Linked DNA regions of Homo sapiens. The protein of the gene in region 2 purifies or fractionates together with the protein of the main gene of each other region. This does not show direct contact. Each region holds a gene or a part of one and is shown on either strand. Other genes may lie near its edges. The genes, in order: B9D1 and POSTN.

Evidence for each region.
Region 1: the proteins of POSTN (region 2) and B9D1 purify together in Homo sapiens (affinity purification with mass spectrometry, with the first as the bait; one large-scale study listed by BioGRID). This does not show direct contact.

Annotation. Positions count from the first base shown.
Region 1 is NC_000017.11:19,345,440-19,349,262, forward strand, and holds part of B9D1 (B9 domain-containing protein 1), read right to left. Parts: intron 2,442-3,823; coding exon 2,345-2,441; intron 1,893-2,344; coding exon 1,830-1,892; intron 1,758-1,829; coding exon of another isoform or gene 1,700-1,757; exon of another isoform or gene 1,511-1,699; intron 1-1,510. UniProt on the Homo sapiens protein: Component of the tectonic-like complex, a complex localized at the transition zone of primary cilia and acting as a barrier that prevents diffusion of transmembrane proteins between the cilia and plasma membranes.
Region 2 is NC_000013.11:37,574,517-37,578,339, forward strand, and holds part of POSTN (periostin isoform 1 precursor), read right to left. Parts: intron 3,283-3,823; coding exon 3,237-3,282; intron 137-3,236; coding exon 56-136; intron 1-55. UniProt on the Homo sapiens protein: Induces cell attachment and spreading and plays a role in cell adhesion. Enhances incorporation of BMP1 in the fibronectin matrix of connective tissues, and subsequent proteolytic activation of lysyl oxidase LOX.

The DNA.
Region 1 (3,823 bases), on a different chromosome or scaffold from region 2:
CCGTGCACGTGACCTTATTGAGAAACAGGGTCACGTGCACTTTGCACAGATATGATTAGGCTAAGGATCTTGAGGCGACTATCCAGGTGGACCCTAAAGGCCAGGACTCGAGTGATGAGGCCACAAGCCAAGGAAGGCTGGGGCCACCAGAAACTGAAAGGGCAATAAACAGAGTCTCCCCTAGAGCCTTGGGAGGGAGCACAGCCCTGTGGTGCCTTTTCTGGGCCCAGTGACCTGGATTTTGAACTCTGGCCTTCAGCATACATTTCTGCTGTTTTCAGCTATCACATTTGTGTGTTTTGTTGCAGCAGCCACCGTGGGAAACGAATACAGTGGCCAAGAGTGTTTGGGGCAGGCCCTAGGCCAGCGCTGGAGGATGTGGGGAGAGGCTGGGAGAGGGGTGGGGATGACCGAGGTGTCAGCCTGAGCAAGGAGCCTCCATATCTGGGAAGATTCTGCCAATCAAACTGCCTTCACTAATCAGAACTTTCTCCAGTTTTTGTAATCCAAGCACATACTGCCTTGCCCAGTTGCGAGCCCCTCCACAGGGGCTGTGAAACCCTTTCCTCAGCGAGCTGTCCCCTGGAGGCCCAAAGTCCTCCTTGGAGCTGTGGGCGGTGGAACAGGGTGAATAACCCAGCCTGGATGGCTGTGTGGGTCCCCAGTCTCTTAGGCTTTCCCAACCCACTGATGGGCACTGCCTCGCTGCCTCCCTGACAGCCTGTGGCATGGGGATTGTCACCTCCAGGTGATACTGGCCCAGGTCATCTGGGAAAGAAGTCCTTTGCTACAGGGTGGCCTCCCAGAAGGACTCCTAGGGGCAGTAGGCACACAAATTCTCAGGCTGAGGCCAGCGGAGACCCTGCCCTTCCTCCCCTCCACGGCTCTCAGAGCTCAGTGAAGCATTCTCGGCCCTGGGCGCGATGCTGTCCCTCCACCCAGCAGGGCTCTGGCCTGGTCTCACGCCCAGTACTGGCCAGGCTCGCAGGGGCTGCTTGCCGGCTGCTGCCCTGGAACCCAGGGAGTCCTCCATGTTCCACTTGTGCCTCACTAATCTGCCGGTGGGCGGCAGAGGCTTGCTGCCCAACTGCGCTAATGGTCCTCGAGTCAGAAGGCCAGGGCCCAGCTGGCCCTCTAAGCTCCCACTTGGATGTGAGCAGGGGTAAGAGGCCTTCATGCTGGGGCTGCATCCAGGCATCCCCTGGGCCCTCCCTGCAGGCCCTTGTGTCCTGGCCCCTGCCTGCCTCCCTGATGTCTCCCTCATTCTGCCTGGCTTACCACTTACTGGCCACACTGCCGTCCTGGCCACACCACCGTCCTGGCTTCTCTAGCATGCTAAGCTCACGCTCTCCTCAGCCTGGCAGGCACTGTTCCCTGTGCCTGATGTTCTTCCCCGGCTCTTCCCTCCACACTAAGCCTCTGCGCAAATGTCAGCTCCGGCCAGAGACTCCCACATGTAAAGGCATTTATCATGATTACTGTTCCAAGGTGTCTGACTCATACTGCTATATCCTCTTGTTTCCCACCTTTTAATGTCACATTATGTCATGAGCATTTTTCCCATCTGACAAGAGTTTTTCCTCTGCTCCCTCAGACACAAAGATTTTTCACAGGGCACAGGGTAAAATCGCCCGGCCTTCTGCTGCTGGAACAGGGCTGAAGGGAGCCCCGTGACTCAGCACTCCCAGGGGACCTGTTTCTATTTGTCCTCAGTGGGTGGAGCAGCTTGCAGATCTGAGGAGGCGACCAGGCACAAACTGAGGGGTAGAATGGGACATCCATTCATCCAGTAGATCAGGAGGGGCTGGGGTTATGGGTACAAAACTCACCTTGTAAACTTCTGCAGTTTAGACGTAGATTCTGGGACAAACATGGGGATGGTCCTTTTGTGCCTGAAACAAATGTTTTTGCAGACAGAGATGCTGAGTAAGAGACCTTTCTGAGCCTCCAGGGAGAAGAAACCCTCAGATCAGGCCAGTGCAGCTGCAGCGTGGGCCAAGTCAGGGCCAATGTCAACGAATCCAACCTGTGCTAACTGAGCACCCCCTGTGTCTGGGCAAGGTGCTGAGCGCCAGGAGACAGCCTCATGGAGGTCAGAGTCCCTCAGGGTCTTTTCTTTTCTGGGTCCCACTACCTCCCCAACCCACCTGGTGTGTGGCTGGCACCACCCATCTGAAAGGTTCTCCTCCCAAATACAGGCTACAACCCCCCTGGCCACCAGGCTGAGCTGCCCAGGCCCCTGGAGACCCCAGAGCATTCCCAGCCTGAACCTAAGACAGAAAACGAGGTGAAGTCTGTCCTAGGACAAGTCCTGCCCAGGGCCCAGGTCAGAATGAGGACCTACCGGCCAGGTGAGAAGGGCACGTGCACGGCCCCATAGCCTCGAACCACATCGTTCCCGAACACATCTGGTCCATACACGCTGAGCACGATCTGTGGCCCTTGGGAAGGACAAGGCAGGGGGTGGGCACATGAGGACACACAGGGGAGGTGCAGGGCAGAGAACAGGGCGTGTCCAGCTGAGGGTGCTCAAAGGATGGAGCTCAAAACTCTGGGGTGGCAGGCTTGAGAGGGGACAGGAGCAGGCATGGGAACCCAGACTGTGCCAAAGACTTCTGCCCACCCTGGTACTTCCTGTGTCTCCACTGAGGCCTGGGCACACATTCCACACCCCTTCTCACCGCTATGGAGTCAGTGCCCACTCAGTCACTCCATGTACAAGGAGGCACTTCCAGAGGCCTTATCTGGGCCCAGGGCCCCAGCTATGATCAGGGCCGACTAAGGACCTCTGCTCTCTGGGTGCTCCCTTCCTGATGGAGGCGGGCTCATGGGACTGAGGTGGCAGGGGCTCATTTTGGGGGTGTCTAGAAGTCAGAGAGAAAAGAAAAACCTTCTGGGCATTTTCCTTTAAAATATTATAGGTACTATAATAGGTGTGGCTGTTTTTACACCCGCTTCGTGTTGCCATTGAGGCGCATGAGGCACTTTCACCTCGCCAGTTTCAGGTGAGGCCCAGGGAGGGACTAGGAGCCGGCCTGACAGGCTCTGATCCTGCAGCCACGACTGAGGCAAGTTAGCCAACCTCTCTGCCCCTGTTTCATCATCTCTAAAACACATGAAATAGTACCTAATGCATAGTGAGTGCTCAGTAAATGTTAGGGAGAGGTTTGTGCCCTTCCCATTACTACCTTCCACCAAAGGTAACCATTATTCTGAATTTTAGGAAACTACCTCTTTACTTTTCTTTAAGACTTCACTGCCAAAGAATGCATCCCAAACCTGGTACTTTACCTTTACCAATGTTTTTGAAAGTTTATACAAAAGGAATTATACAGTACATTTATTTTTGTGCCCAGACTCTAATCCAAAATTATGTCCATTAGATTTTCTCAAATGGTTTCCTGTAAAGGGGCGTGTTCATGTTCAATACCATATAACATTCTGCGTGGGAATCTGTCACAATGACTGTTCATTCTAGTGCTGATGGACACATGGGCTGCCCTTCCTCTGGGGGCCACGCACCCAGTGCTGAGCACCATGGCGCAGGCTCTCGGTACTCGCGTGCACACATCTCTGGTGGGCACACACCCAAGAATGACACTGCACAGGGCCCATGTATGTTCCCTCCCAAAAGGTAACACCAAGCTGCCAGCATGGTCCTATCAGCCAGCACTCCCCCAGCAGTGGTATCTGATTCCTGCTCCTCTGTACCTCACGAAAACATGGCATTACCAATCTTTTAAATTTGAGCCGTCCTAGTGAGAGAATAGTGGTAGCTCACTGTAGCTTTAACTTATATTTTCCTTCATTTTAGATTTTTCTT
Region 2 (3,823 bases):
TATTTTTACAGATGTTTTTACTATAAAAGGAACCATGTATAACATTGATTTTTACCTTCAGTTTTGATAATAGGCTGAAGACTGCCTTCAATCACTTTAATTTTTGGTTCCACAACTTTGGTTATAATTTTAGTTGCTGAAAGTATAGAAAGTGGAACATGAAAAATATTTACATAAAAACCTGAACAAAGGTTTTTTTTTTTTTTCCTTTTCTTTTTTGTCTCTGTAGGATACTAAGGCACAGGATGTGGTAATATGTTCAGGCAGTCAGATACAGGAAATATTTATGGTACATAATATAATATCTTCTCATGTCCAGGTGTTGAACTCTGAAGTCTAGTGACTTGAATTTGATCTAGTGAAATATATACTCACAAAGTGAGGAATTATATCTAGAAATCTGTAATTTTTAATTGTACCGCTAAAGCGCTTTACCTTCTTTTGTACTTCTTGAAAATACTGGCTGCATTGCAACAGAAGACAAATATGATTAATGTCATGCAATTCATAATATCTTAAATTGCATTGCTGGATTCTTTCTCAATTAAAAGAAAAAATGAAAGAAAAAGGCTTTTAAAATGTTTTTCATGCATCTGATAACAGTGACATAGAAAGGAAAAAATGAAACATAGTTCAGAATACTTAAAAGTAAGAATAAATTTCAGCCAGCCAGACATGAGCTCTATTCAACAAACATGATATGATCAGTATTTAAGTTATAGGCTAAAATGTCTTTAATTTTCAGCTTTGTTATCACTATCCTTTTTTTTTTTTAATTTAAAGGTATATATTTTAAACGTGTGTCGTCTACCTAAGTAAGATAATAGTCTTTGAACTAGGTACTATGTTTGCTGTTTGGGTGATGGGTTCACTAGAAGCCTAAACCCCAGCATTACTCAATATATCCATCTATCAAACCTACGTGTGTACCCCCCTAGATCTATAATAAAAGTAAATTAAAATAAATTAAATACCAGTCAACTATTTGGTTGACTTTGGTTGTACTGATTAACTGGAAATGTGCCTCTGAAGCCACACAGCCAGAGCAACTGGCTTTTTGTCATTTCTAATGAAAAGCCTTGAAAGATGGTTCTATTAGATAACGGGCCACACTGAAGCTAACTGTGCATCTAGATCACATCAAAGCAGTAGAGGTGAGATGTTAGCACAGCTTTGGTTTCTGCAGTTCTCACCTCATGCTTGTAAGATGTTTAGCTGTGTCAACTTTTTGAATTAATGTGGGTTCTTAGCCTTCATAGACCCTGTGTTTCAGCCTTATTAGGTTTTGTATTTTGAGATCTCAAATTGTGAAGCTCTAAAATAAAACAAATCTGTGTGTTTAGGTACTAGTTCCACAGGTGGTCTTGCCACAGAAGAACCTTTCCATGAAAGTCGAATACGAATACACAGGGCTCTCTATTGCTGCTATCAAAATGGACTAATTCCTTTTAGCTTACATTTTTTACATCATGTTAAGGAATTTGACGTTTTGGATGTTCAGCTGGTTGGTAGTTTTCATTTCAATCTTGATTTTCTGCAGACTTAAATAGTTTTGACAGGTGAAGCTCTGAGGATTAAATATTGATTTTAGCCCTCTCCAGGTCAAATGTTCCATATTTGACAACTTATACCAAAAACAGCATCCTTCCCCTCAACTATACACTTTAAAATGGATGTTATTTTGGGGATGAGGATAATATGCAGCAAAAAATTATAGGAATTTTAGAAACAAGTCAACAACGAAATATAAAAATAGAAAATTTGGTTTAATTTATCTTTACTTCTACTTTAAAATACTTCTTAATAACAGCATACCGTCTAAGGAGGAGTAAAAGAAACATCTTACATTGGAATGTAAATGTTAGAGCTGTTTCAAGGCCTCTGGGTAGGTAGGGAAGGACCATTGAACATGTGTGTCTTAATAAAATGTAGCTTATGCTCTGTGAGTGAGGATGTAATTTAGTAGGAGAAAATAATTATATTTTTGCTCATTGTAATCAAGATATTGCATTCACATATATAGAAAGTAGTGAAACTAAGATGGATAAAGAAGGGAAGCTAAAGAAATGTAGTGGGAATGTGTATATATATATATGCATATGTATATATTTATACCTTTGATGAAGAAAGATGACATAACATGTCTGATGAATAGAGCCCATAAGGATTGCTTAATTTTCAGAAAACATATTTTTTACAAGATTGTATTCCCATGGTGAATCATAACTATTCCAATTAAATCTTTAATACAGTGCTGAGCTGGCCTGATCCTGGAATTGCATGTTATTATTGCATAATTGAAATCAACAACAGCAGCAGACATTTTGTTTTGCTCCTTACATTGGCTTTACTCCTTTTCCATATCTAGTATAAATCTTAAGGGAAATTTTCTTAATTAAATAACTGGATGCTCATGGTATAAAATGGAATGATTTTCTAGCCAGAATAAATGTGGGTATTGAAGTAATGTTTTAGCTACTGATACACTTTGAGTGTTTAATTACAGAGCCAAAACAAAATGAAAAGAATTTCTGCTTGAAAGCTACAGTGAAATAAAGAAAGAGAGAAAAGATAAACAGAGAAAAAGCCATGATGGAAAAGATATACTACTAGCTACACTTATGAGAATGAAATACCCTTTATCATTGTTAAGTAGTAGAGGTTTAATTTTGATAATCTGGTTGTGTCAGAGATCAAAGAACCCTGGAATTTGGAAACTTTAAATTTGTCACATGGCAGATTTTTTTGTTCCTTTGTCCAATTTTGGATGGGAGAGTTTTTGAACTGCCACCTTATAAACATTGGTATTCTTCAACACGTGCTTCTCAGCCTGCCCTTAGATAGCTCAGGGCTTGAGGGTGGCGTGAACAACAAGTCTTGGCTAAGGTCATTTCTGTGTCCACACATCTGAATTTTTAGATATTTCTAGAGGGTCTTTTCGCCATCTCTTCCCTTTATATGTCTTTTTATTTTCCTGGCTCTTTGCCACGCTAATATTATATTTTGCTGTCTTTCTCATGTCATATCATTTCTGTTTTTCCAATGAGTGGGGAAGAAGTTCATTGGAGTTGAAGGTTATCTGAGACCTCAATCCTTTTTTCAAGTGAAATGAGATTGGCCATAGTTTGGAATTCTAAATACCAGATTATCAATAATCTCTGTAAATACAAAGAAATGTATTGTTTTCTTTTTTCATACCTTGCCACCCAGGTGGCCAATATTTATTATATACTTACTATAGACAGTCACGGGGATTTCTTTGAAGGTGCTACCACGAACAAACTGAAAATAAATGTTTATATTTAGTAACATGAAAGGTGATAGTTGTGTTAACAAAACCATGGCACCACTTTAATTCTTATTAAAGTAAAAATAGTGAAGCTATTATTACACTTAATAGAAGTGAAGTCCTCATATAAATCATCTTCCAATTCAATGCTATCAGGTCAGAGGGCATAAAAATCATTGGATTCATTACTCAGAGATTTAAAAATTATATAATAATTAATCCAAAGTTAAATATATTTATGAAACACAATTTTATGTTTCCTGCTACTTTTACCCTACATTGAAAAAGAAGAAAAATATTCCGTTCCCTTTAATCTGTGATGAGTGACAATTTTTTATAAGTGAATGTTCTTTCCTTTATATTCTGCAGTGAAAGTATTGAATGATACAACGATTTTAGTCATTTATGTACCATTTTATTTTTCTAAATTGGACTGTAAACTTTTTGAATAAAGACATGTCCAATTTAAATACATATTTTTCATAACACTTTACACAATACTTGGTCCTGAGTAGCTTTTAATAGATATTTGTT